Homo sapiens: one gene and its partners. The protein of the gene in region 2 purifies or fractionates together with the protein of the main gene of each other region. This does not show direct contact. Each region holds a gene or a part of one and is shown on either strand. Other genes may lie near its edges.

Region 1 (7,023 bases), on a different chromosome or scaffold from region 2:
CAGTGCCGCATCTCTGCTCACTGCAAGCTCCGCCTCCCAGGTTCACGCCATTCTCCTGCCTCAGCCTCCTGAGTAGCTGGGACTACAGGCGCCCGCCACCATGCCTGGCTAATTTTTTGTATTTTTTTAGTAGAGACAGGGTTTCACTGTGTTAGCCAGGATGGTCTCAATCTCCTGACCTCGCCTCGGCCTCCCAAATTTTTTTTTTTTTTTTTTTGAGACGGAGTTTCACTCTTGTTGCCCAGGCTGGAGTGCAATGGTGCAATCTCGGCTCACTGCAACCTCCGCCTCCAGGTTCAAGCGATTCCCCTGCCTCAGCCACGTGAGTAGCTGGGATTACAGGCATGAGCCACCACACCCGGCTAATTTTATATTTTTAGTAGACACGGAGTTTCTCCATGTTGAACAGGCTGGTCTCGAACTCCTGACCTCAGGTGATCCACCCGCCTCGTCCTCCCAAAGTGCTGGGATTACAGGCGTGAGCCACCATGTACAGCCTCTTTTTTTTTTTTTTTAAGACAAGGTCTGGCTCTGTCACCCAGGCTGGATTGCAGTAGCTCAATCATGTCTCACTGCAGCCTCAACCTCCCATACTCAGGTGATTCTCCCACCTCAGCCTGTCAAGTAGCTGGTACTATAGGTGTGTGCCACCACCCCCAGCTAATCGTTTGTATTTTTTGTAGAGATAGGGTTTCACTATGTCACCCAGGCTGGTCGTGAACTCCTGGGCTCAAGCGATCCGCCTGTCTCAGCCTCCCAAAATGTTGGGATTACAGGCATGAACCACCATGCCTGGCCTCCATTGCTTCTTTATTCAGCACCCGTTAGAATTTAGTTTTGTTTTGTTTTGTTTTTAAGGCAGAGTCTCACTCTATAACCCAGGCTAGAGTGCAGTGGTGTGATCTCAGTTCACTGCAACCTCTACCTCCCAGGTTGAAGCGATTCTCCTGCCTCAGTCTCCTGAGTAGCTGGAATTACAGGTGCACATCACCACGCCTGGCTAATTTTTGTATTTTTAGTAGAGACAGGGTTTCGCCATGTTGGCGAGGTCAGGTCTCGAACTCCTGACCTCAAGTGATCCGCCTGCCTCGGCCTCCCAAAGTGCTGGGATTACAGCGGTGAGCCACTGCGCCCAACCTAGAATGTATCTTTTCAATTGGGTCTATACAAGCCTCTACCTGTCTTCCTGGGTCTAGTTCAAAGGCATGTTTCCTGGCTCTCTGGCTGCCTTTCTCAGTATCTGTGAAGGCCTGGATGGCTCATCTTGCGTCTTCCACTAGTGCCCAGCCTGAACAAGGCTGCTGTCTCTCACCACTCACCAGCTTAATCTCCCCGTTGCCCACAATGACACTGAACTCGCTCAGATCCTTCATCAGCCCGTTCAGCACCTCAGCAATTCGTTTTCGCTGGTGTCCACTGACCTCCTGTAGCCGCTGCAACTCAGACTCCAGGGACAGCATGGTGGCCTGGGGACAGCCCCTCAGGTCATTCCTGTTGCCATCCTCCTGCTCCCTTGCCCAGCCCAGGCAGAGGCCTCTCCCTTCATGCAAGACCCTGAGGGCTGCTATGAAGAGAACACAGGCCCTGCAGAAGAGTCTGAAAGACAGAGGGACTGTGAGGGGAAAGTGCAGTGACAGGGTTGGGGAGGGACTCACAATGCACTGAACAGCAGTGCAGAGGTGCAGCCACCATACAGCCCTGGAAGGATGCAGAGGTCCCCTCGACATGGGAGATGTTCTGTGGTCAGGGAGCTGTTGGACCATTGGCACACCACTTACCACCTTCTGAGACAGCTCATCCACCAGAAGCTGGTTCTGCTGGCTCTTCTCCTCCACCTCCTGGGACTTCTGGTCATAGTTCACAGCCAGCTCCTCCAGGGCCTGCAGCACTTCCTTCACCTCATCCTTAGCGGCATCGTTCTCTGATTGCAGGTGGCTCAGCTCCCGCTGGACCTTCTCGTTGTCTCCTCGGGTGGACACCAGCAGCTTCAAGGGAGAGGAGTGGCATGTGGGAAAGATCACTGCCAGTGACCATTTCTATGGCCTTGGGTCTGGGAAGCTGAGCCCCCACCCTACCCAAAATAAAGAGTTAAGAGGAAGTGGGCTTTAGGTTTCATAGAAATAGGGCAACAGAATGAAGAATGAAGAAGCCCCCAGACTTTAAAATTTGTGCTTTAAGAAAAGCCCCAGCCGGGCGCAGTGGCTCACGCCTGTAATCCCAGCACTTTGGGAGGCCTAGGTGGGCACATTGCCTGAGCTCAGGAGTTCGAGACCAGCCTGGGTAACATGGCAAAACTCCATCTCTACAAAAATTAGCCATGTGTGGTGGTGCACTTGTAGTCCCAGCTACTTAGGGGGCTGAGGCAGGAGGACTGCTTGACCCTGGAAGATCGAGGCTGCAGTGAGCTGAGATTGCCCCACTGCATTCCAGCCTAGGTAACAAATTGAGACTCCATCTCTAAAAAAAAAAAAGAAAAGAAAAAAGGAAAAGAAAAGAAAAGCCCCAGTGAGGTTCCCAGACTTCTGCTGTTTAGGGGAGTGATTAATCCCCAAGCAGAAAGCGCCTTCTTCCATCTGATTTTAAAAAGGTCTATTCCATGCCTTCCAGTGATGAACAGAACCCCTTTCCTCTCATGTCCTGCCCTCCCTCCTATTACCTCTTCCTGGTCCAGCATTTGCTGCTTGAGCTTCTCTATGAGTTGGCTTTGTTGGTTGATTTCATCATCCTGTTGGAGGCAACAGGGAAAGACAGGTGAAGGGAAGCTACTCCTTCCAGTTTAGACGTAAGAAGTTTGGGGGTAGAGGCAGGATCCTGATAAAAATCCAGATAGTATAAGCTTTGAGTTAGAAACCCCATATCCTACAGGAAGATCGGTTGAAGCCAGGAGTTCAAGGCCAACCTGGGCAACATAGTGAGACCCTGTCTCTACAAAAAATTTAAAATATTAGCTAGCCTGGTGGTGCATGCCTTTAATCCCAGCGCATTGAAAGGCCAAGGCGGGAGGATCGCTTGAGGCCAGGAGTTTGAGACCAGCCTGGGCAACAAAGTGAGACTCCAACTCTACCAAAAAAAAAAAAAAAAAAAAATTAGCTGGGCGTGGTGGTGTGCACCTGTAGTCCCAGCTCTTTCAGAGGCTGAGGTTGGGGGGGATCCCTCGAGCCCAGGAGTTTGAGGTTGCAGTGAGCTATTACTGCACCACTGCACTTCAGCCCGAGTAACAAAGCAAGACTCTTTCTCTCAAAGCAAAATAATAATAATAAATGAAAATAAAAATACTTTTATGAAGAATTATTAATGAAGTAGGAAATTGTGCATAATATAATGCTGAATGAAAAAAATCAGATGTATAATTACATATACAGGCCGGGCACGGTGGCTCACGCCTGTAATCCAAGCACTTCAGGGGGCCGAGGCGGGCGGATCGCCAGAGGTCAGCCTAGCCAACATGGTGAAACCCCGTTTCTACCAAAAATACAAAAATTAGCCAGGCGTGGTGGCATGCGCCTGTAATCCCAGCTACTCTGGAGGCTGAGGCAGGAGAATCACTTGAACCCGAGAGGCAGAGGTTGCAGTGAACCACAATCGTGCCTCTGCACTCTAGCCTGGGCGACACAGCAAGACCCTGTCTCAAAAAAAAAAATTACTTATACAGTATAACTCAATTGCATGGTATATGCACAGAGAAAAGCAAAATGTTGAGTGTTATCTCTGAATAGTGGATGATTTTAATTTTCTTACATACATTTATATTGATGTTTCCACATTTCAAGCATAAGCATTTATCCCTTTTAAAACCAGAAAGAGGCAATATAAGCGATTTTCTTTGATCGTCTACCTCTCATCCCACCTGGCGTGCCTCAGTGCCCTGCCTGGCCGCCCTCACCTTGTCGTCAAGCTGCTTATAGAGACGGCGGATCTCCTCCTCGTATTTCTGCCGCTCCTCGGGCGCGATGCGCACCACGATGGATGAGTTGTCATTCACAGGGGTCTCCTCACAGAGCTCGGCTCCCAGGGCTGCCTCCTCCCCAGCCAGGCGCTCTGTCTCAGGCACATTCTCTCCTGCAAAGGGGCAAGACGAGGTGAGAGATGGAAGAAGAAGAAGCTGCATCCACGAGTTCTTCCTTCTCACTCACCATGCCCCTTGAACTCTCTTGCCAGGTGGACCCTCTACCTTTTGGGAGTATGGGAGGTAGGTAGTCAGGCCCCTCCCTTCCCCCATGACTGCTCTACTGCACCTGTCCAGAAACACAGCCCCTCTTCTAGGAGATTGGCCTGGCCAGAAACACCACCCAAACAGAGTTGGCTCCCAAACATCCTCCTCCTCTTCCCACTGCCCCTCACTCCCACCTATCCCTCTCTAACCATTGCGCCACCGGCTCAGCTCAGCCTCCAGCTTCGCAATCGTCTCCTTCTGGGCCTTTGTCTTCTCCTTCTCCTTCTCATATTTCTTCTTCCACTGCTCAGCAGTCAACTCCAAATTTACTGAGGCAGTGTTCTTAATGGTCTTTGCCCTGGGTGAGGAGAAGAGGAACAAAGAAATGAGAGCAACATGAGACTTGGGTGACCCTGAGGAGAGAGAGCCGCAGAGGCTGGGATGGGAAGCTGGGTACCAGGGATCCCTCTGGGGACCCTGCCACTGACCGCTGCCCAAACATCAGGGTGGACTTGGTCTCTGCATCATTATAACTGGATGGTGAGCAACAGATGAACATAGTCGTCCGGCAGTTTCCCCCGAGAGAGTCCTGGAGAATCCTTGTCATTTTGCTGTCACGATATGGAACATAGCTTTTCTGGGGGAGGAAGGAGACCAGGAATCAGAAATAAACAAATAAAATTCAACAGGGAATCAGAAAGGATAGTGGTGCCACCCCGGGATCAGACAACCCATGAATTGGGGCATGATCATATGGTGGCATTAGCAGGTGGGGGAGGAGATGGGGTGTGGCTTGAGGGGTGAGGGGACCTAAGGATCACTCACAGTGCCCTCAGCCAGTGCGGAGATCACATTGCCCAGAGCTGACAGTGACTTGTTGATATTCTTTGCCTCGTCCAGCACGGCTCCCTCTGCTCCAGTCTTGCTGACCTACCAGGGCAGTAAGAGATGAGTGTGTATGAGCAGCTGCACATGGAGAGGGCTGTCACCACCTCGTTCCAGGGCTCAGTCCACGGAGGAAGGAAGGAACAGGGAAGAAGATGGAGTAACAGAGATGCTTGGCTGGGATTGGGGAAGGCCCTTCCTCTGTTCCCCTAAACTGTCTTGTCAAACACCACATTGCCCCTAACCCCTGCCACATATTACATGATTCCTTTTTTTTTTTTTGAGATGGAGTTTCACTCTTGTTGCGCAGGCTGGAGTGCAATGGTGCGATCTCAGCTCACCACAACCTCCGCCTCCCAGGTTCAAGCGGTTATCCTGCCTCAGCCTCCTGAGCAGCTGGGATTACAGGCATGTGCCACCACGCCCAGCTAATTTTGCATTTTTTGTAGAGATGGGGTTTCTCTATGTTGGCCAGGCTGGTCTCGAACTCCCGACCTCAGGTGATCCACCCACCTCGGCCTCGCAAAGTGCTGGGATTACAGGTGTGAGCCACCGTGCCCAGCCATATGATTCCATTTATATGAAATGTTCAGGATAGGCAAATCCATAGAGACAGAAAGTAGATTAGAAGTTGACAGGGGATGGGGTTAGGGGACAATGGAGAGTGACTGTGAATAGAAGATGACAGTGCTCTAGAATTGGATAGCGTAATGGTTGCACAACCTTGGGAACATACTACAAACAACTGAATTGCACTTTAAAATGGTGAACTTTATGGTATGTGAATTATATCCCAATGCAAATCATTTTTTAGTTAAAAAAGAGTCGGCCGGGCACAGTGGCTCATGCCTGTAGTCCCAGCACTTTGGGAGGCCGAGGCAGGTGGATCCCGAGGTCAGGAGTTCGAGACCAGCCTGGCCAACATGGTGAAACCCCGTCTCTACTAAAAATACAAAAATTAGCTGGGCTTGGTGGCGGGAGCCTGTAATCCCAGCTACTAGGGAGGCTGAGGCAGGAAAATCACTTGAACCTGGGAGGCAGGGGTTGCAGTGAGCTGAGAGCGTGCCACTGCACTCCAACCTGGGTGACAGAGCAAGAATCCGTCTCAAAAAAAAAAAAAGAGCCAAGGACCAGCCTGGCCAACACAGTGAAATCCCCTCTCTACTAAAAATACAAAAAATTAGCCAGGCGTGGTGGTGGGCACCTGTAATCCCAGCTACTTGGAAGGTTTAGGCAGGAGAATCACTTAAACCCAGGAGGCGGAGGTTGCAGTGAACAGAGATCGTGCCACTGCAAACCAGCCCGGGCGACAGAGTGAGACTCTGTCTCAAAAAAAAAAAAAAAAAGAGCCAAGGCTTCCACCCACCCCATATCCACAGGACCCCCTACCTTCTCACTCCCTGCCAGGTCCACCAGATACAGCTTCCCACTGAGCTTCTGCTCCGTTTCCATGTTCTCCTGCTTGATGTTGATGAGGAAGATGCTGTGGCTCCGAGAGCTGTGTTCATTCATGTCTGCAGGAGCAAGGGAGAAACAGGACCTGCACCACCCTGCAGAACTGAGGTCCTCAGCCCCCGGCTTCCACTGACCCCAGCCCCGCCCACCCAGAGAGAAGGTGCCCACCAGGACTAGCCCTGCTGCCACATCTCCCAGGCAGCAGGGTCCCACAGACAAGGGGTCCTCCTCCTCTGGGGGGTACAGTTTCCTTGCTCACTTTTGAGTCCCTCCACCCCAGAGGACACAGAACACAAGTGGATCCTCAGACTCGAGAGATCCCCTTGTATCCTCACTCACTGGTGACAGCCACATGACGATTTGATTTCCCTTCATCAATCACATCCAGAATCTCCTCCGGGCTGGACACAAAGCGTTCAGTACAACCCTGTGGGGGACAAATGGACAGTGACCCATAAGCTTTGTTTTTTAAGTTTGTATTTATTTATTTATTTTTATTATTATTATTTTCTTTTGAGATGGAGTCTCGC
Region 2 (7,023 bases):
CCGGGAGGTGGAGGTTGTAGTGAGCCAAGATCGTGCCATGTTGCACTCTAGCCTGGCAACAAGAGTGAAACTCTATCTCAACAAAAAATAAATAACTTTTCAGCTGGGTGTGGTGGCTCACACCTGTAATCCCAGCAGTTTGGAAGGCTGAGGTAGGTGGATCACTTGAGGTCAGGAGTTCAAGACCAGCCTGACCAACATGGTGAAAACCCATCTCTACTAAAAATACAAAAATTAGCCTGGCGTGGTAGCACGTACCTGTAATCCCAGCTACTTGGGAGGCTGAGGCAGGAGGATCACTTGAGCCTGGGAGGCAGAGATTACAGTGAACCCAGATTGTACCACTGCACTATAGGCTGGGTGACACTGCGAAACTCCATCTCAAAAAACAAAACAAAACAAAACAAAACAAACAAACTTTTCATTTTTCATTTTCTGTACATTGACAACTCTATCATTTGCCTTGGCGTGATATCTCTACTTAAGGTTGTTTCTCTCTTTCCTTTTATTTATATTTATTTATTTATTTATTTATTTTAAGATGAAGTCTCACCCCATCACCCAGGTTGAAGTGCAATGGTGCGATCTTGGCTCACTGCAACCTCAGCCTCCTGGGTTCAAGCAATTCTCCTGTCTCAGCCTCCCGAGTACCTGGGACTACAGGTGCATGCCACCACAACTGGCTAATTTTTGTATTATTAGTAGAGACAGGGTTTCACCTTGTTGGTCAGGCTGGTCTCAAACTCCTGACCTCAGGTGATCCGACCACCTCGGCCTCCCAAAGTGCTGAAATTACAGGAGTGAGCCACAGCGCTGGGCCGCTTCTTATTTTGTTGAGACAGAGTCTTGCTCTGTTGCCCAGGCTGGAGTGCAGTGGTGCGATCTCGGCTCGCTGCAACCACCAACCCCCGGATTCAAATGATTCTCCTGCCTCAGTCTCCAAATAGTTGGGATTACAGGCATATGCCACCATGCCTGGCTAATTTTATATTTTTTTTTTAGTAGAGACGGGGTTTTACCATGTTGGCCAGGATGGTCTCAAACTCCTGACCTCAGGTGATCGACCTGCCTTGGCCTCCCAAAGTGGTGGGATTACAGGCGTGAGCCACCAAGCCCAGTCTCTTCCTCTTATACACAAATAAATCTGGTCTGTCATTTATTTTCTTTTTTTTTGAGACAGAGTTTTGCTCTTGCTGCCCAGGCTGGAGTGTAGAGGCGCGATCTCACCTCACTGCAACCTCCACCTTCTGGTTTCGAGTGATTCTCCTGCCTCAGCCTCCTGAGTAGCTGGGATTACAAGTGCCCCCCACCACGCCCGGCTAATTTTTGTATTTTTAGTAGAGACGGGGTTTCACCATGTTGGCCAGGATGGTCTTGAACTCCTGACCTCGTGATTTGCCCACCTTGGCCTCCCAAAGTGCTGGGATTACAGGCATGAGCCACTGTGCCCGACCCTTGTGATTTCTTATAATACTGTACTTTAATAAAGTGTCCACCTATATTTTCTTTTTTTTTTTTTTTTTTTTTTTTTTTTGAGACGGAGTCTCGCTCTGTCGCCCAGGCTGGAGTGCAGTGGCGGGATCTCGGCTCACTGCAAGCTCCGCCTCCCGGGTTCACGCCATTCTCCTGCCTCAGCCTCCCAAGCAGCTGGGACTACAGGCGCCCGCCACTACGCCCGGCTAATTTTTTGTATTTTTAGTAGAGACGGGGTTTCACCGTTTTAGCCAGGATGGTCTCGATCTCCTGACCTCGTGATCCGCCCGCCTCGGCCTCCCAAAGTGCTGGGATTACAGGCGTGAGCCACCGCGCCCGGCCTGTCCACCTATATTTTCATTTTTTTTTTTTTTTTTTGAGACGGAGTCTCGCTCTGTCACCCTGGCTGGAGTGCAATGGCACGATCTCAGCTCACTGCAAGCTCCGCCTCCCGGGTTCACGCCATTCTCCTGCCTTAGCCTCCCGAGTAGCTAGGACTACAGGCGCCCGCCACCACGCCCGGCATTTTTTGTATTTTTTTTAGTAGAGATGGGGTTTCACCATGTTAGCCAGGATGGTCTCGATCTCCTGACCTCGTGATCCACCCTCCTCAGCCTCCCAAAGTGCTGGGATTAGTGCTGGGATTACACTCGTGAGCCACTGTGCCCAGGCCACTTTGCTATTTCTTTTAACAAAGTTGTACTCAATACAACTACTGTTGTTTTGTATTTTTACCTTATTATATTACATTGTATATATTGTCCTTACAAATTACTTTTCTTGTTTTTCTTTTATATTTATTAGAGTAGCATATTAAGTTTTGTAGAAATCATATGTGGATTTACCTATGACTTATCTATTAATTAAATTCAAGCAAAATATTTGTTATAAAAAGGAGTCACTGAGTCTCAGAGAATTGAGAATCATTAGGATCACTGGACAGTGCCTGGAAGAAAGGACTTCTTATGCCTCCTTCCTCAGCACCCTTAGTGAGTGGACTGAGGGCAGCAGATGGATGAGCTAAGAGAGGCCAAAACAGCAATGGTGGGGGGTGCGGGGCGTGGGGTGGGGAGGGCAAGGAATACTGACAGCAGGATGGTCAGGTCCCAAGGTGCTCTCCCGGATGCTAAGGGCATCATTCAGCAGGTGGGCAGCTTCCTTATACTTATTCTGGTCACTGGAAGAAGACAAAAGTGACAGGAGTTACCCTGAACCCGCAAGCCTTCTCCTTCCCTCCTTCCCTTTGGAAGGACTGAGTACATTTAAGGATTGGAGACCTCCATGAGGAGACAGGAAGCCTGGCGTGGACAGTAAGGGGGCTTCACTGACATACTCATACCAGAATGCAGGGCACTGCCATCCCAAGAGGAGGCCACAAGTTATAAGAAGCAAGGGGGCAGGGGGAAGAGAGGGAGAGAGCACTCCCCAGAAGAGAGATTAGAGGAACAAGGATCCCAAGGGATGAGCAAATGCTTAGGTATGGGAAAAGTGAGAGTTCTGGCACATAAAGAAGCACCCTGTTGGGGTGTATCTGGGAGGCCCAACAGGGAGGAGAGGTACCCTGTAAAGAGGAAAAATGAAAGCCAAAGGAGGACCAAGGTGGGAATGTGGGGGAAGATCTGGGCACTGGAGGAGGGAAGTCCTCACCGATACACCAAAGCAAGGATGTTGAGCATGGTGGCGACATCAGGGTGGCCACGGCCTGATGTGCGCTCCAGGTCCTCTAGTGCCTGCTTACAGAGTGGCACGGCCACCTCATAGCGACCTTGGGCTGCGTACTGGATCACCAGGTTGTGCAACGTCCGCAACCTTGCTGGGATCTCATATCCACCCTGCTGAGCTGCTGTAGCACCTTGACCACGGGACACTAAACCATCACAGAACATAAACAAAGGACTCTTCCTCTCCCCTTTGCTGTCTGCCCTTCCACTCCCCATTGCATGTCTTGTTCCATACTTGTGCCCACCCCAACCTGGACTCTCAATATTAGACCTGCCTCAAGTGCTATTCTTTTATCCACTCCCTTGACCTATGCCCATCACAACCTCAGTTGTTCACCCAGTAATTCATGCATTCAACAAACATTTATTTAATAAGTATGAACCAAGGGATGTTCCAGGAGTACAAAGGTAAGAAAGACCTGGTTCTTTCCCTTGGGGGGCTCATGGTCTCCCTGTCTCAGGTTTATTCTCCCACTAGACTGTGAACTCCTTACTGGTAAGACCTATGCCATTTCCATCTCAGTACTCCTAGTGCCTAGCACAGTACCTGGCACATATTCAGTGCTTAATACATGTTCGTTCAATGGGGAGGCTGAGGAAATCGAAGTACTAGCCCAGCCCCTGCCCTGTCTCCAGAGAAAGTGGAGAACCTATTTCTAGATGGTGACTGTCCTGTGTACAGGGTGGGCCACAGCTAGGGCCAGCCTCCTGCTGCCCCTTTTCACCCTCCCATTCCAGAGGCAGACTCACAGCCATTGCTGGGGTCCTCTTCCTCCTCATTAGGAAAGAGGTCATCCAGGGAATCCTTGGTGGCATCGCCTTCTTTCTCCTCCTGGAAGGGAAGAAGCAACATATAAGGGCCAAGATATCCCTACCTAGTAGCCTTCTCAGTGACCCCTCTAAGCCATGAAATCACAGACAGATGGGACCTAGGAGAAGACTGTTGTTCCTGTCTCTGCCCCTGGAAAGGCTAGCAAGTGGCCCAGCCAAGCTCAGGCCTCTTGTTTGTAACAGCCAGAGATGCTTTGGACAAAATCTCAAGACTTCCCCTCCTTCTCATACAGAAAGTTTCCTTCCTGGCCGGGTGTGGTGGCTAACGCCTGTAATCCCAGCACTTTGGGAGGCCGAGGTGGGCAGATCACCTGAGGTCAGGAGTTCAAGACCATCCTGACCAACGTGGAGAAACCCCATCTCTACTAGAAATACAAAATTAGCCGGGCGTGGTGGCGCATGCCTATAATCCCAGCTACTCATGAGGCTGAGGCAGGAGAATCGCTTGAACCTGGGAGGCAGAGGTTGCGGTGAGCCGAGATCATGCCATTGCACTCCAGCCTGGGCAACAAGAGCGAAACTCTGTCTCAAAACAAAAAAAAAAGAAAAAAAAAAGTTTCCTTTCTAACCACCCTCAATCTTGCCTTAACTCTTGTAATTATGGCCCTATGCTGATCTCTGTGTGTTTACGTTGATTGTATGTCTGTCCTGTCTCTCCTGAGGGAAGGGAGTGTGGCCGATCTTATTGACATGTACCCAGAAAGTGTCTAGCTCAGCCTGGTGCCCATCATCTGCACAGCTCATTCTGGACTTACTACGTAACCCTCCCTCACTGTCTAACCTATTCCGCACTAGGAAAATCTGCTTTTCCCCATCAGGAACTGCAGCCTCATCCAAACACCAACCCTCCTACCCAGCTTCACCAATGTGTCCTATGCAATTCATCTACTCACTTTCCCTGGGACAGACCAGCTTTTCCAGGCTGTAAGCCTTATCAATGACACCCTGCACTCCAGTCTAAAAAGCTGCTCCCTCTTCCTCATCATGAACTTTCAAAATCCATCTCAACTCCTAACCCACTCAAATGGGAAATCCAACCTATATCCTACCCATCCCTGTATCCTGCTTCCTCTATTTTTTTGTTTGTTTTTTGAGACAGAGTCTCTAGTCTGGCAACAGCCCAGGCTAGAATGCAGTGGCATAATCACAGCTCACTGCAGCTTCCACCTCCTGGGCTCAAGCGATCCTCCCACCTCAGCCTCCAGAGTAGCTGAGGCTATAGGTGCACACGACCACATCAGGCTAATTTTTTAATTTTTTGTGGAGACAGGGTCTCACTATGTTGCCCAGGCTCCCTGCTTCCTCTATGAATTCTTCTTAGACCATTCCAGCCCTCAGAGACATTTCTCTGTGAAATTCTTCCCACACTGACTGAACCACTCATCCAGCACTGAGCACTTGCTGCTTTGTATTTTGTCACATATATGTTCTCCTGGATAAGACTTGTTCCCTACAGATACATCTCAAGAAAACACACACTCTCAGCCAGGCGTGGTGGCTCACGCCTGTAATCCCAGCATTTTGGGAGGCCGAGGGCAGGCAGATCACTTGAGGCTAGGAGTTTGAGACCAGCCTGGTCAACATGGCAAAGCTCCATCTCTACTAAAAATACAAACATTAGCCGGGTGTGGTGGCAGACACCTGTAATCCCAGCTACTTGGGTGGCTGAGGCCCAAGAATTGTTTGAAAGCCAGAGGCGGAGGCTGCAGTGAGCTGAGATGGCATCACTGCATTCTGTTGAGCGAGGGTTAAATTTCACACATTTTGGACCGGGCATGGTAGCTCACACCTGTAATCCCAGCACTTTGGGAGGCCCAGGCGGGCAGACCACCTGAGGTCAGGAGTTCAAAACCAGCCTGGCCAACATGGTGAAACCCCGTCTCTAGTAAAAATACAAAAATTAGCCAGGCGTGGTGGCAGGTGCCTGCAATCCTAGCTACTCAAGAGGCTGAGGCAGGAGAATTGCTTGAACCCGGGAGGCGGAGGTTGCTGTGACCTGAGATTGCACCATTGCACTCCAGCCTAGGCAACAAGTGTGAAACTCCGTCTCAAAAAAAAAAAAAAAATTCACACATTTTGAAAGCAAATTTTAGGAGGGTCATGCTCAACTGGGTTATGCTTTCCCTAATTGTACCACGTAGAATTCTGGATTGGAATTGTCCAGGTGCTTATCTATCTCCCTCACAAGCTTGTAATTGTGAGAGCAGGAACTCTGTGTGCCCCATTCACCAGTGCAGTGCACAATGCCTGGTACACAGTAGGCATCTCATTAAATGTTGACTGAATTACCTGAATATTGTTTTTCCCCTTGCTGTCACCTGGAGTTGGTGTCAGGGCTGAAAAAGGAATTCTTTCAGGTGAGAGCAGGTTGGGTAGAGCTGATGGACCCTGAGGATGATGGGGCAATTGCCCCCATGTCTGTGGTAACTCCCGGCTGCCCACCCCTCAGCCAGTCTCGCCTGTGCACACTCACCGAGGTATGTCCATCCTCATCATACTGCCGCAGCTGCCCCAGGAACTCCAGGTGCTTCTTTTCCTCCTCCAGCTGAGCCACAGCCTGTTCACTGCGCTGTAGCCGCTGCTGGGTGCCAGCCAGCTCATCCCGCAGCCACTGGTTCTCCTGGCATAGCCGCCGCACCTGAGCCCGCAGCTTCTGTTTCTCCGACTCCACTGTGCTCAGGTGGCTGGCTAGAGCCAGCATCACCTAGGTGGGCACATCCCCTGAGCTCCAGATTCTGGGTGGGAGTATTCAGGAACAGGTGGAAGGGGAGCCTACTGGGACGTGGCAAGACTGGCAGGGGCACAGAGGAGCCAGAAGGTGGGGGTGTAGCAGTGGTGCTACCTTCAAAACATACCCTGAATCCAATTTCCCACTACCTCCACTGCTGTCACCCTGGACCAAGCCACTATCAATTCCTACCCAAATTATTACAATAACTTCCTCACTGGCCTCGTTTCTGCCCTTGTTCCCCTATTGTCTATTTGTAACCCAACAACC
Region 3 (7,023 bases), on a different chromosome or scaffold from region 2:
AAGATGGTACCACTGCACTCCTTCCTAGGTGACAGAGTGAGACTCTGTCTCCAAAAAAAATAATAATAATTCATGTGTAAGTTATTCTTTGGACATAAATTTTCAGTTCAGTTGAGTAAAAATACCTAGAAGTGCTAGGTTGTACGTTATGACTATGTTAGCTTTGTAAGGAACTCCCAAATGGTCTTCCAAAGTGGTGGAAACATTTTGCATTCCTATCAGCCATGAATGAGAGTCTGCTGTTCCACATCATTGCCAGTGTTTGCTCTTGTCAGTTTCTTGGGATTTTACTAATGTATGGTGTTATTTTATTGTCATTTTAATTTGCAGTTGTGTTTTTTCTTATTGTTGAGGTTTTCTTTTTCTTTGAGACGGAGTCTCGCTCTGTCACCCAGGCTGGAGTGCAGTGGCGTGATTTTGGCCCACCATAACCTCCGCCTCCTGGGTTCAAGTGATTCTTCTGCCTCAGCCTGCCAAATAGCTGGGAACACAGGCGCGTACCACCACGCCTGGTTAATTTTTATATTTTTAGTAGAGATGGGATTTCACCATATTGTCCAGGCTGGTTTCGAACTCCTGACTACAGGTGGTCCGCCTGCCTCAGCCTCCCAAAGTGCTGGTACTACAGGCATGAGCCACTGCGCCTGGCCCTGTTGTTGAGTTTTGTTTTGTTTTATTTTGAGATGGAGTCTCGCTCTGTCGCCTAGGTTGGAGTGCAGTGGCATGATCTCGGCTCACTGCAAGCTCCTCTTCCTGGGTTCAAGCAATTCTTCTGCCTCAGCCTCCCGAGTAGCTGGGACTACAGGCTCCCACTACCACACCTGGCTAATTTTTTGTATTTTTAGTAGCAACTGGGTTTCGCCATATTGGCCAGGCTGGTCTTGAACTCCTGACCTCAGGTGATCTGCCCGCGTCAGCCTCCCAAATTGCTGGGATTACAGGCGTGAGCCACCGTACCTGGCCTCCTATTGTTGAGTTTTAAGAGTTCTTCGGCCGGGCGCGGTGGCTCACGCCTGTAATCCCAGCACTTTGGGAGGCCGAGGCGGGCGGATCACGAGGTCAGGAGATCAAGACCATCCTGGCTAAAACGGTGAAACCCCGTCTCTACTAAAAATACAAAAAATTAGCCGGGCGTAGTGGCGGGCGCCTGTAGTCCCAGCTACTTGGGAGGCTGAGGCAGGAGAATGGCGTGAACCCGGGAGGCGGAGCTTGCAGTGAGCCGAGATCCCGCCACTGCACTCCAGCCTGGGCGACAGAGCGAGACTCCGTCTCAAAAAAAAAAAAAAAAAAAAAAAAAAGAGTTCTTCATATGTTTTGGATATAAGTCTTTTATCAGATAGTGTTTTGCATTATTTCTCTGTGTCTTGTTTTTTTTTTTTTGTTTTTTTTTTTTACTCTCAACGTCATTTTTTGAGACTAAAAATTTTTAATTTTAATGAGGTCCAACTTACCAAGTTTTACATTAATAGATTGTGTTTTTGGTATTGTATTTAAAAACTTGTCACCAAACCCAATATCACCTAGATTTTCTCCTGTGTTAAAAGTTTTTTTTTCAGTTTTGCATTTACATTTAGATCTATGATCCATTTGGAGTTAATTTTTCTGAAAGGGGTAAGGTGTGTACCAGGATTCATTGTTTCACATCTGGATGTCCAGTTGAAGAGACTGTCCTCCCTCCATTAAATTGCCTTTGCACCTTTGTCAGAGATCAGTTGACTGTATTTTGTGGTTTTATTCCTGGGCTCTTTATTCTGTTCTGTTAACCTGTTTATCTGTTCTTTGCCAGCACTGTACTGTTTTGATTATTATAGCTTTACAGTAAGTTGCATAGTGTCAAGTCCTGTGACTTTGTTTGTCCTTAGTGTTGTGCTAGCTATTCAGGGTCTTTTGACTTTACATGTAAACTTAATCATGTCATCTGCACAGTTTTATTTCTTCCTGAAGGTGAAGGAATATACAGTGACCACAATTCCTTCTGGTTGAGCTTAAAGTTCATCCTTTCCCTGCCACCTAAACATCCTCTTGTTAAATTTTAAGCTGAACGTGCACATGATTAACAATGAATTTACTGAAGAGGTCCTGTAAAGAGGAAGTGAAAAAATTGAAAGAGGCAGAATTTATTAGTTTGGTTGTATTTTTGTGTTTTCTTTAGGTTTACATTTATTTATTTTTCTTGTTGGCATGTATTAACATTATTCTCAGTTTTTAAAAAAAGGAAGGCAAAAAGTAAGCTGTATTTATTTACCTTTCGTTGAAAACAGTAATAAAAGAAAAAAATAAGATCCAGACTTTGTATGAATATTGAGTAATACTAAAATATATTTTATAAAAAGATTTTATAGCCTAATTGGGAAAACACACATTGAACATTTTTGGCTTTAATTTTTTATTTTACTTTTTCCTTACAGCAGCCTGAGGGAACTGGCATGATAGATGAAGAGTTCACTGTTGCAAGACTCTACATTAGCAAAATGAAGTCAGAAGTAAAAACCATGGTGAAACGTTGCAAGCAGTTAGAAAGCACACAAACTGAGAGCAACAAAAAAATGGAAGAAAATGAAAAGGAGTTAGCAGCATGTCAGCTTCGTATCTCTCAAGTATGTTATAGAACAAAGTTTATTCATTTTTTTGAAACAGCCACATAGAAATTTTATTTATTATACAAGTTTTCAGAAAAATGTGTGTCTATAGGTGAAATTTAGTTGTTTTTTTCCTAGTCTAGCTGCAGTAAATTTGAATGATTTAACTGAGTTATATTTGCCTAACATAAATATGGGTTATGTATAGAAATTTACCAGAATGATGTGACTGGTGGTAACTTGTTAAAGACTTCAGAATTCCAGGGTGGGCAAAACTGCAGGGAACCAGTTTCCTGGCTTGGCAACTGAATGAATGGGGCCATTCACCACTATCAGAATTTCACAAGGAGGGAAGATGGTAACGTTAGATGGTGGTATCTGTAAAATTAGTATTTCATATTTGAGTCTTCAGTGCCTTAGTTTGCAAGTTATGATCACCAATGAATTAATTGATTACATTCTTTAACATTTCAAAATTGGCTCCTGAATATTTTAGTTTTAAATATTCCCAAATTTATCATATATAGATAATGAAATGTTTACTGTCAAATATTCTTAAAGTGTATGCATATGTTTTCCACTTCATATCAGTATATTTTTTCCAAAAGCATGAAGCCAAAATCAAGTCATTGACTGAATACCTTCAAAATGTGGAACAAAAGAAAAGACAGTTGGAGGAATCTGTCGATGCCCTCAGTGAAGAACTAGTCCAGCTTCGAGCACAAGGTATAGCTTCCAACTGTTTATGAGTTACATCTGTGTTCTTATTTTAGTATAATTGTAGTAAACTTAATATTCACACTGAAAGAAATAGTAGGAATATGGCTGATTTCGAATGGTAAACAAATCATACATATTAATGTTGCTTTGAAACATTTTTTTGTTGTTGTTTTGAGACGGCGTCTTCACTCTGTTGCCCAGGCTGGAGTGCAGTGGCACTATCTTGACTCACTGCAACCTCCACCTCCTGGGTTCCAGTGATTCTCCTGCTGCAGCCTCCCTAGTAGCTAGGACCACAGGCACATGCCCCCACGCCTGGCTAATTTTTTACCTTTTTTGTAGAGACAGGGCTTCACCGTGTTACGCAGGATGGTCTTGATCTCCTGACCTCGTGATCTGCCTGCCTTGGCCTCCCAAAGTGCTGGGATTACAGGCATGAGCCACTGTGCCTGTCAAAACATATATATATATATTTTTAAGATTTTGTTTGAATATGGAAATAGCCAATCTGGGGATTTCCCACAGTTACGAAGCGGGGTGTGTGTGTGTGTGTGTCTTAACATAGGGGACTTAGGAGTTATCTCATTTCTTTACCATTCCCTTAACTAATCTGTTCTGGATTAGGCCAAAAAAAAAAAAACCAAACAAACCATAAAGGAATACATAATACCAACACAATGGATGTAACTTGTATACTAGTCTACATGTCATTGAACTTGGAGAGCAGGTGACATTTGGGTAATTTGAAGTTGAATATTGCTAAGGAAAATGCTTATTGTAAAATCCATTTGCTCCTTGGTTTATATGAGGAACCTTAAAGGCTTATTTCACTCTTCTATTTTCTCTCTATTCAAACAGAGAAAGTCCATGAAATGGAAAAGGAGCACTTAAATAAGGTTCAGACTGCAAATGAAGTTAAGGCAAGTTTGATGTCACATTTCTAACAGCTTTAATTAATCAGTATTAATTTTGATTAGTCTGACTTTAACATCCTTTTCCCCCCCAAAATTTTAGCAAGCTGTTGAACAGCAGATCCAGAGCCATAGAGAAACTCATCAAAAACAGATCAGTAGTTTGAGAGATGAAGTAGAAGCAAAAGCAAAACTTATTACTGATCTTCAAGAGTAAGTATTATACTTCTCTAGTTAGGAGGAAAGAATCGGTTACTGATGGTCATGGTATATATTCTTATTAGAAACCTGCAGTTTTCATCAAAATTACATTTTTATCTTGGAAAATAAAGAATTTTCTCATTTATGAGTAAAACTTCTAAATTCCAGGTGAAATTTTTGAGGCTTTTTTTTAGGTCTTTTGATCTAAATTATTCAGTAAAAGAAAAAAATCCCCAACCTAAGTCTATTATTGCATACCACAGTCTTCTCCAAATCCTTTATTTAGTTTCCTTTTTTAAAAAAATTCTTGGCTGGGTGCAGTGGCTGATGGCCTGTGACCCCAGTGCTTTGGGAGGCTGGGGTGGGAGGATCACTAGAAGTCAGGAGTTCAAGACCAGCTGGGCAACATAGTGAGACTCCATCTCTACAAAAAATAATTTTTTAAATTAGCTGAGCTTGGTGGCACATGCCTGTAGTCCCAGTGACCCAGGAGGCTGTGGCACGAGGATTGCTTGAGTATTGGAATCTGAGGCTGAAGTGAGCTATGATTGTACTACAGCCTGGGTGACAGAGCGAGACCCTGACTCAAAATTCTTAACTGGGAAAAACTTTTCTGGAAATTCTATGGATTTTCAAAGGTTTTTTTTTTTTTAAGTTGTCATCTTAGTTTATCTAGAAGCAATTTCCCTGCCTCCATAACCATGTGCACATACATAGAGTTTATGGAAGTCAGAGTTTGCAACAATTTGAGTAGGAACCAAGAAGAGAATAACATAACAAAATAATGATGAGGTTTGGGGCGTAGGTCTTACTATGAATACCTGATGGAAGTAGGCATAAGGATTCAGGAAGATGAAAGACAGAGGAGAACAGAATCATGATTTCAAACCAAAATACGAAAAATTTTGTATGTCCACAAGTAGCCAGGTCCCTTTCCTCTTTTCCTCCATAGGGTATAGGATAACAGAAAAGTCCTTGATGAGATTATAGAATTTAAAAGTTTGGAAATTTTAATGATGACATTGAGAAAACTGTGATATTGATACTGTGTTAATTATTTTTTTCTTTCGTCAGCCAAAACCAGAAAATGATGTTAGAGCAGGAACGTCTAAGAGTAGAACATGAGAAGTTGAAAGCCACAGATCAGGAAAAGAGCAGAAAACTACATGAACTTACGTGAGTAATTGTTTTTAATTAAAGTTTAAAAATAAAAGCTAAATTAGAGGATTATAGGCATTACCTTTGGATATAGCCAGTGGATACATATTTTACTTTGTATGGGCTAAAGGATTTTTTCTTAAATCCACTGAGTTGGTTTGATTTATATCTAAATACTTGGAATATATACTTGCATTTGAGTGAAAGCAAGGTCTTATATTTCATTGTGGTTAAGATTAAGGTTTCTCTTTATTAATCTGCTTGCTGTTTCTTTATCTCCATATTACTTCAGGATCCAGCATAAAAATGAACCTAAAACAATATATTAAGTAACTTCGAAGATTTTAAGATCTAACACAAAAACTGAGTTTTTGTTAAATTTTCTCTTGCATAAAAGAGCATTGTGGTGTTTAGCCTTGCCATTTTGAACAGAGGTTTTCATGGTTTACCTTTTCTCATTTTCTCAAAACTCAGTTTTCTAGAATCTTAGCAGGTAGAAAGTGCATGATTATAATTTTTCACATACCTTGAGTTTGTGAGACAATTTGCAAATCAACTGATATTGTTAGGATAGTTAGAACATCAGGACCAGTTCAGAGTGGATTATATGAAGATTCTGCTAACTTGCAGCTGTAATTTTGTTTAGAATACTTGTAATGTAAAATATTTTAGTCTTTGACAGTTTATAATCTATAATTAATCAGTATCATTTTGGATAAATAGCAGTATAATACATGTGGCATATTTTAAAATATAAATTATAGAACTATTCCTTATTCTTTGAATTCTGCCACATTTTATTTCATCTCTTCCATTGCTATATATGGAATGTATAACAATAGACTGTTGTTTAGAAGGCATATGAAAATTTTTTGAAATTGCAAAGCTGCAGTGGCTCACACCCATAATCTCAGCACTTTGGGAGGCCAGGGCAGGAGAATCAGTTGAGCCCAGTGTTTGAGAATCAGCCTAGGCAATATAGTGAGACCCCGTCTCTACAAAAATTTTTTTAGACAGGGCTGATTGTACATGCCTGTAGTCCCAGCTATTTGGGAGACGAGGTGAGGAGGATCACTTGAGCCCAGGAGGTTGAGGTTGCAGTGAGCAGTGTTTGGGACAGAAACTCTGTGTCAAAAAAAAAAAAATTTTTTTTTTGAAAGACAGCACAGGTAAATTGTTTAAAATAGGCATCTTGTATTTATTTAAATTTAAGAATTTATCCTTTCAGACACAAAATATTTTATTCAACTCTCATGCTAAGTACAATATACAGAATAAAATTTGAAAATATATGTTTGTTCTTCTACTGTTAGGGTTATGCAAGATAGACGAGAACAAGCAAGACAAGACTTGAAGGGTTTGGAAGAGACAGTGGTAAGAAAAACATGAAAATAAACAGGATTGGGAAATATTTTGTGGGTTTTTTCTACCATGATTATTCTAAATTTAAAGTC
Region 4 (7,628 bases), on a different chromosome or scaffold from region 2:
CCTCCCAAGTTCAAGCGATTCTCCTGCCTCAGCCTCCCGAGTAGCTGGGATTATAGGCATGCACCACCACACCCGGCTGAAGTATTTTTAGTAAAGATGGGGTTTCACCATGTTGGCCAGGCTGGTCTGGAACTCCTGACCTCAAGTGATCCGCCCACTTTGGCCTTTCAAAATGCTTGGATTACAGGTGTGAGCCACTGCACCCTGCCCAAGAGCTCTAATTTTTAAATAGCTTATTTACAAAGCACTCTATGCTTCAGGTCAAACATTTGTCAAGCATCTGCAATATGCCAAGAACTATACAGATTTCATTACCTAATTTTAAAATTAAATTAAGACCCAGAGAGGTAATAGGATCTATATAAGAATGCTCGAAATAGTGAAAATAGCCCTGTATCTGGAGGTTTAGCTCTGCCACTATCATGATTTCTACTGTACAATATACCCATGCAAGTCACTTTAAATTATTTCATAGGTTAAAGGCCTTTTTACTAAAAAAGAAAGAAAAAATTTTAAATTAAGTCCTTACTCGTGCCAGGACCTGTGCTAAAGTGTGTGTGTGTGTGTGTGTGTGTGTGTGTATATATATAACGTTTCTCATTTAAATCTCCTGAAACCTCTGTAAGATAGGTTCTGTTATTATCCCCATTTTACAGATGGAAACATGAGCTTAGAAATGCTAAGTCACTAGCTAGAAATAATGCAGCTAGTAGGTGACAATTATTTGAATAGAGTCTGACATCAGAGACTGTACTCTTTAAAGCACACACACAGTATTTGGATACTCTTGTATCACAGATAATATAGGGAATTTCAACATGTAAAACAATTCAATTAGTTCACAATTTTAGTCAATTTGGTACATATCATTCACATGCTTATAAACAGAAAATAATAGGAAAAATCAGTCAACAAACACCTGGGGAGAGAGGGAAAAGGCAACTTCATTTCTCTTTTGATAGGATTCTAAATACCACAAATAGGAGAAAACAGCCAAATCAAAAGTTAGGAAATCTGTAACTTCAACCTTCATAAAGCGTAAAGTGTGTCTTTAAGAAGCAAAGATTTAGGGAAGTGCCATTTGGGCACCTCTCACTCTCAAAAATGAGAGAGCTGTTCTCCTTTTTCTTTTTTTTTTTTTTTGCGACAGAGTCTCATTCTGTCACCTAGGCTGGAGTGCAGTGGTGCGATCTTGGCTCACTGCAACCTCCGCCTCCCGGGTTCAAGTGATTCTCCTGACTCAGCCTCCTGAGTAGCTGGGATTACAGGCGCATGCCACCATGCCCGGCTAATTTTTGCATTTTTAGTACAGACAGGGTTTCACCATTCTGATCAGGCTGGTCTCAAACTTCTGACCTTGTGACCCACCTGCCTCGGCCTCCCAAAGTGCTGGGATTACAGGTGTGAGACACCGAGCCCGGCCCTGTTCTCCTTTTTCTTTCTTTTGCCTATTAAACCTCTGCTCTTAAAACGCACCTCCCCCTCTGGCCCTGCCCCCCCCCAAAAAAAGAGGCAAAGATTTAAAAAGTTAACAGGAAAAGACTACTTTATCACATTTAGCTTGAATGCTAAGTAGTAACATTTACTAAGGTCCACAGTTTACTGCTTACTACACAGTTTACCACTTTACTACACAATAACCCACCCTGGACTGATGGCTTCTTCAGGAACACTGAGAGAATGTAAAATACAGGAATCCTGATAATTCTGCATTCTTCGAGCAATCATTATAATCAAGCTGATGTTTTTATCCGTCATCATTGTGTATAGTTCCTTTGTTGTAATTGCTCCTTTCTCTTTGGTCTCACATTTTTTCACTCTTTTCACCATTGCTCTTTTGGGTTTTGTCTTTGGAATCCAATACATTCTCCAAAGAAACTTTAGCCAATGTGCCACCATCCTCTCTTCCTGTTTCCTGCCTTTTTTGTTGTAGTTGCTGTGCTTCCTTCTGCCTGTCCTTTTCCTCAAGTTATTTCCGGACTTCAGCTTCTTTATATCTTAGTTTAAGGCTCTCAGAGAGTCTTTCAGCTTCTTCAATGGCTTTTTTGATGTTTGCAGTTCCAAGTATTGAATGGACGTAATCCTCTTAGTGCTTATTTTCTCTGGTTTAACTTCTGTCTTCTTATTGAGGTCTTTTAGTGAAGAACTCAGGTAGAGTTCTTTAGGAACTAAAGCCACAGCAGGCATGGTGAATTATCTTTACTTTTCCACGTTCACGATAGATGCTATATTTCCTTAAAAGTAGTTTTTTCCGTGGCGTCGGGTGCGCTTCACTAACACCAGCCTTCTTGCCAAAGGCCCATCTCCCAAGAACTCGAGGGAGAATTAGCCTTGGCTACCAAGATGGAATCCAGCCCAGCTCATCATCCTTTGCCCATTTTTAAAATTTTTTTTTGGTTGTGAGTTATAGGTATTCTTTATATATTCTGTATATTAACTCCTTATCAGATGTATTATTTGCAAATTTTTTCCCATTTCATGAGCTGCCTTCTCACTCTGTTCATAGCATCCTTTGATGTGCAAAAGTTTTAATTTTGATGTAGTTAAATTTATCTGTTTTTTCTTCTGTTACCTATCTTTTTTTTTTTTTTCCCTGAGATGGAGACTCACTCTGTCGCCCAGGTTGGAGTGCAGAGGCACAATCCTGGCTCACTGCAATCTCTGCCTCCTGGGTTCAAGCGATTCTTCTGCCTCAGTCGCCAGATTAGCTGGAATTACAGGCACGTGCCACCATGCCTGGCTAATTTTTGTATTCTTAGTAGAGACCAGGTTTCACCAGGTTGGTCAGGCTGGTCTCAAACTCCTGACCTCAAGTGATCCACCCATCTCAGCCTCCCAAAGTGCTGGGATTAACATGCGTGAGCCACGGCGCCCGGCCTGTTACCTATCTTTTGGTGTCCCTTTTCAATTGTTTTGAATCCTACTTAGCCCATTTCCTATATTAAGCCTTCTCAGACAACACTGAGAACTTCATCCTCTGTACTCCCACTAGTTTCTAAGCTGCCTGAGGGCGATGACTTATTTTGCAACCTCCCTTCAAATGAGAGGCCCTACGTTATCTCCCTTGAAAAGGGTTCACTTAATAAATCTAAGTTTACAGAGTGACAGCAAATGCCATTTGCTCAGTTAATAGCTGATGAATGAACAGATGAACGAATGAATGATGACTGAACACAGTGACACACAGATACGTCTCTGTCCACTTGAGATAATCCTGACCTCCTCAGATAAACCAGTGTATGCAAGGTTCTGGGCATCTTCTGGTGGGCTCAGGGAAACTGAGAATTGGATTGTCCTCTCTAGTATATTATGAAGTTGATCATTTAAGATGATGGGTCTCTGAGCCAGAGCCTGAGAATTACTTAATTTAAAAACAGATGAGAAGGTGGCACCTGGGTCTTTTTAATCTACTTCCACTGCACATGAGGAGATGAAATAGAACTGGTACTACTTACAAGGGTTTATAAAAGTTGATTTTAGTAGGTCTGTCCTCTCAGCTAGGCAGAGAACACTTGTATTTTCAGGTATTACCCGAATTTAAGCAACAGATGTGTTCCTAAAATTAACTAACTTATTTGTTTTATGATCATTTGTTCAGCACCCAATAACATCTAACTTTCAAGAGCTTATCCTATATACATGTCAGGCACCGTGCTAGGTGCTTTAAAAGCATCTGTCTTTTAATTCCCCCAGAAATCACAAGATGATATTATTCCAATGACAGAGATGAGGAAACTGAGTCTTAAGGAAATTAAGACTTCTTAATTTCCTCCGCTCTTAATTTCCTCCGCCTGTTGGTCATACATCTAATAAGTGGCTGAGGTGGGATTCACACTCATGCATTGCTTCTTCCTAGGGTAGAATCCTTATTCAGTATGCTGCCCACTATGTGCTAGATGCTACAGACACAAAGATATCAAGCAGATATCACCACCCAAGTGCAGTGCTAGAGACAGGCACAGCAGATTAGGGGAACATCAAGGAGGGCCACCAACTCTTTATAGGTGTTTAGTGAGCTGGGAAAGTCTGAGGAAGGAGGGTTGAGCTAGGTCTTAGAGGAAAAGGAAGTTCTGGAAAAATAGAGTGGACACTCAGTTGTTCTGCCAGCCCGGCACCATGTCTGGGAATACCATCCCTCTTCTTTTGGGAACCTTCCCACCAAGGGATTCCTCCATAATCTTACAAAATCCCTGATTCTGGTTGATTGGTTTAGCACTAGATGCCAACCTAAACCAAGGCCAATCAAACCCAAACTCTGAACAGACATCCATCCTTATCTAGTGGTAGAAGTTGAAGGATGAAACCCAGGGGCTATTGGGAGCTGTTTCCCAAGTGATTTTCTTTTGGGATCAGGATGATCCAGACCCAGTTATCTAGAGATTTTAACCGGAAATATTGGATATGACCTCCATCCGGTTCCGGCTTGGGCAGCCAGACCGGACTTGCAGGCTCTTGGAGGTCGCATCCTGTCCTTCCCCCGGCAGGTAGAGTGACTACAAGTCCCGGGATGCGCAGCGCTCGGAGTCGGGCGGGGGCCGGGCGGACCTCTACGGTGACGTCACCGTCCCGGGGCGGGCCAGGGGAGGGCGGGGCGGAGGGGCGGGTCTCAAGGCGGCAGAGCGCGCTGGTGCTGATGCAGGATGGCTGAGCGCGCAGGAGCCCGGGAGGTCTGAGCCGGGCGAGGCTCGCTCCCTGCGCATCGCCTCCTCCGCCCGCCGCGTGGTCGCGGGCAGGTGGGCCGGGGGGCGCTGGGCAGGGGCGGGGCAGGGCCAGGGCAGGCCGGTCTGCAGCCGGAGGGGCCGGAGCGGAGAAGCTGCCCACCTTCCCGGGCTCGGAGCGGCCGGGGCTGCTCAGCCGGCCGGGCTCGCGATGACCTGCTGAGAAGCGTCGTCGGAGGCTGCAGGAGGCGGCCTAGCTGTGGGCGGTGCAGCTCGCGGCCTCCTCCCTCGTCGTTCCCGGCCCCGGCCCCCCACCCATCCCCGTGCCCCCTCCCTACCGCCGGCCGAGATGGCGGATCCAGCCGAATGCAGCATCAAAGTGATGTGCCGGTTCCGGCCCCTCAACGAAGCGGAGATCCTCCGCGGGGACAAATTCATCCCCAAATTTAAAGGCGATGAGACCGTGGTGATCGGGGTAAGTGGCTGGGGCGTCTGCCTTCCCTGCTGCTCCGCGCCGCAGCTGGGCGCCCCGACGCCCCAGACGCAGCGGAGGTGTTTAGGCCGCCCCCTCGGACATTCCCGCGGGGCTGGCCTCTCGGGTGGACCTGACCAGAGACCCCTCGCCCCGCGCACTATGGTTCCCTCCCGGGCGGGTGGAGAGGCGGCCGGGAGCGGCGGGCCGGGCGGGGGTGGCGGGGGTGGGGATGGGGGGCGAAGACGGGCTCGGCGCCGCCATTGTTCGCCGGGTGGGGGCCCGGGTGGGCCCATTGTTCCCCACGCTCGCCTCGCCGCGTGGGTAGTGTGTTCGGGTGACCCTCAAGCCGGGTGCCCAGGCCCCCTTTAAAGTGTGAGCTCTGCAACCCGCAAATGCTTCTGGGCATCAATCAATTCGATTTACCAAACGCCTTGCCTCTTCTTCTCACGACCCTAGCAAAAAAGAAAGAAAAAGGGGTACAGGAAAATTTCTAGTCGCGTCTCGGAGCTCCCGCGGCAGTGTAGACGCGGCTCCCCGCGGTGTTACACCTGGCTCCGCGCGCGGAAGGCGGAGGGTTGGGGGAGTACTGGTGGCCTCGGTGTCCCCTGGAGGCCTGGTGTGTCTCCCGCTTCCTCTCACGCCTGGCTGCCCTGGATGTGGAGTCCCGGCTTGATCCCTCCCCTCTGGGATGACCTCCCTCCCATGTCTGCAGACCCTCTGATGCGCCTCACGCTGGGTGGAGAGGAGGCTGTGTCCACATCTGTGGGGCGAGGGGGCTCAGAGCGCAGTAGCCCCCTGTGCCAAGAGCAGAAGTTACTTCGTGCGGCTCGGACCCCCCTCCCTCTCTATCTCCCTTCCCCACCTTTTCTCCCCCACCCCCTCCCCCTACTTAGCTCCCTCTCTGCAGCTGGGGCTGCTGGTAGGGGGAGGGAACACCAATGGATTGTAGTTCTTAAAGGAATCTGTCAGATGAAACAAACCAGCTCGGTCCCCCGCCCCTTCCCCGCCCGCTGTCCGTAGCGTGTGTGGCTGATGGTGCCCCCTTTGTATGCGAGCCGCGTGGGGAGGGACCGAGTTAATGGGAGCCTCCCGGTCCCCGCTGACACGTTCCTGGCAGCCTGCTCCAGGCTGCTGATGCAGCCTTCCCGTCCCCAGCATTGATTAAGTGATGTCATCCTGATCACTGAGCATGCTCCGACTAACCCCCTCCTCCCCTTCCTCCAGTGGCTGGTGTATTTAGGTCAAGTGATTGACAGGTGACAGTTTACCGAGGGTATTGCAGGAGTCCGCCTGGCCTTTCTCAAGCGCCAGAGGCCGACGTTTTCCAGCCCGGGCGGTCCCCAGCATCTTTGCCAAGGTTGTCTGCCGCAGTCGCAGCGAAGGGCCCTGGGGACCAGCAGGTGCCAGCTGTACCGTAAGGCGGGAGCTCTCCACGCTAGAGGAGCCTGGGCAAGGCTCTGGCCTCAGGGCTTTAACCTGTACCTGGCTTTAAAAGGCTGCTCCCTTTGACGACCTCTTCTCACCTCCCCATTTTCACAGTCATCAGGAACGTCTGACCTCCAAACGCTGTGTGGATGGGCGATCATTCTGCGAGCTGACCTATGAGGGCAGGAAAGCGGGGTTTTCTCTCTGTTTAGTGTTAAACTTGCAGAGAAGATATAAGCTACGATTATTGATGAGGAAGGAAATTCTGCAGTTAATGGCAGATAAGTGTTAGTGACATATACATAGGCAGTACCTGGGGCAGTTAGTGACTTATTTGGTTTACAGCTCTCAGCCAGTATCTGCCTACAGCCTGATCTGCTACTTTCTGAGCCAGGCTGTGGTTTAGATAGAGTGGGAGTTACTGGGGACATCTAGTCCCTGCCCCTTGGCTTGTAACAATTTTTAAACAAATAATTGTGCAGTACTGGAACATGTTCTGGCAACCCTATTTTTTTCCCAGAGGTTTTGAAGAGCCTGAAGAAGTTTTTCTTCTCCCCTCCTCCCTCCTCCCCCATCCCCTTTCCCCTCTCCCCTCTCCCTTCTCCTCCTCTTCTTCTTCCAGAACCAATGAAATGAAGTAATAAATCATCTTCCTTGACCTGTATGCAAGGCAGAGCTCCTTAATTTTAGAATTATCCTTCTTTAATATGACATTGCTATGAGTATATATTTCCTTATCTAAATAAACATATATTAGTGGCTAAACAAATTAAAACCAAGTCACCATATTAAATAAGAAGTTTAAATAAAAATCATAGATGTGAATATACACATTGCTTTTCAACCGTAAAGTAAGTTTTGCTCATCCTACTATAATCCTTTAATACAACAGTTTTCAGTTTTTCTAAGGTAAACTTTTTATTGAAATGAAGCATTCATATAGAAAACTGTTATCATAAGTATACAGTTGGATGACTTTTCATAAAGTAAATGCTCCCTGTAACCACCTCACAGACTAAGAAACAGACATTTTGGGACCCTAGAAATCCCCCTTGTGGCCCTTCCAGTCC

Evidence for each region.
Region 1: the proteins of KLC4 (region 2) and KIF5A fractionate together in Homo sapiens (co-fractionation; 2 studies listed by BioGRID). This does not show direct contact.
Region 3: the proteins of KLC4 (region 2) and KIF5B purify together in Homo sapiens (affinity purification with mass spectrometry; 4 studies listed by BioGRID and IntAct, with this or other methods). This does not show direct contact.
Region 4: the proteins of KLC4 (region 2) and KIF5C purify together in Homo sapiens (affinity purification with mass spectrometry; 2 studies listed by BioGRID and IntAct, with this or other methods). This does not show direct contact.

What each region holds. Positions count from the first base shown.
Region 1 is NC_000012.12:57,567,023-57,574,045, reverse strand, and holds part of KIF5A (kinesin heavy chain isoform 5A), read right to left. Parts: intron 6,921-7,023; coding exon 6,833-6,920; intron 6,553-6,832; coding exon 6,428-6,552; intron 5,084-6,427; coding exon 4,979-5,083; intron 4,791-4,978; coding exon 4,642-4,790; intron 4,512-4,641; coding exon 4,363-4,511; intron 4,060-4,362; coding exon 3,884-4,059; intron 2,726-3,883; coding exon 2,657-2,725; intron 1,986-2,656; coding exon 1,779-1,985; intron 1,467-1,778; coding exon 1,320-1,466; intron 1-1,319. UniProt on the Homo sapiens protein: Microtubule-dependent motor required for slow axonal transport of neurofilament proteins (NFH, NFM and NFL). Can induce formation of neurite-like membrane protrusions in non-neuronal cells in a ZFYVE27-dependent manner.
Region 2 is NC_000006.12:43,062,623-43,069,645, reverse strand, and holds part of KLC4 (kinesin light chain 4), read right to left. Parts: intron 6,730-7,023; coding exon 6,499-6,729; intron 4,027-6,498; coding exon 3,945-4,026; intron 3,341-3,944; coding exon 3,121-3,340; intron 2,651-3,120; coding exon 2,563-2,650; coding exon of another isoform or gene 2,494-2,562; exon of another isoform or gene 2,249-2,493; intron 1-2,248.
Region 3 is NC_000010.11:32,018,422-32,025,444, reverse strand, and holds part of KIF5B (kinesin-1 heavy chain), read left to right. Parts: intron 1-2,408; coding exon 2,409-2,597; intron 2,598-3,187; coding exon 3,188-3,305; intron 3,306-4,157; coding exon 4,158-4,219; intron 4,220-4,313; coding exon 4,314-4,423; intron 4,424-5,045; exon of another isoform or gene 5,046-5,485; coding exon 5,486-5,587; exon of another isoform or gene 5,588-6,882; coding exon 6,883-6,943; exon of another isoform or gene 6,944-7,023. UniProt on the Homo sapiens protein: Microtubule-dependent motor required for normal distribution of mitochondria and lysosomes. Can induce formation of neurite-like membrane protrusions in non-neuronal cells in a ZFYVE27-dependent manner.
Region 4 is NC_000002.12:148,870,611-148,878,238, forward strand, and holds the start of KIF5C (kinesin heavy chain), read left to right. Parts: upstream 1-4,616; 5' UTR 4,617-5,007; coding exon 5,008-5,133; exon of another isoform or gene 5,134-5,585; intron 5,586-6,401; exon of another isoform or gene 6,402-6,732; intron 6,733-7,628. UniProt on the Homo sapiens protein: Microtubule-associated force-producing protein that may play a role in organelle transport. Has ATPase activity. Involved in synaptic transmission. Mediates dendritic trafficking of mRNAs.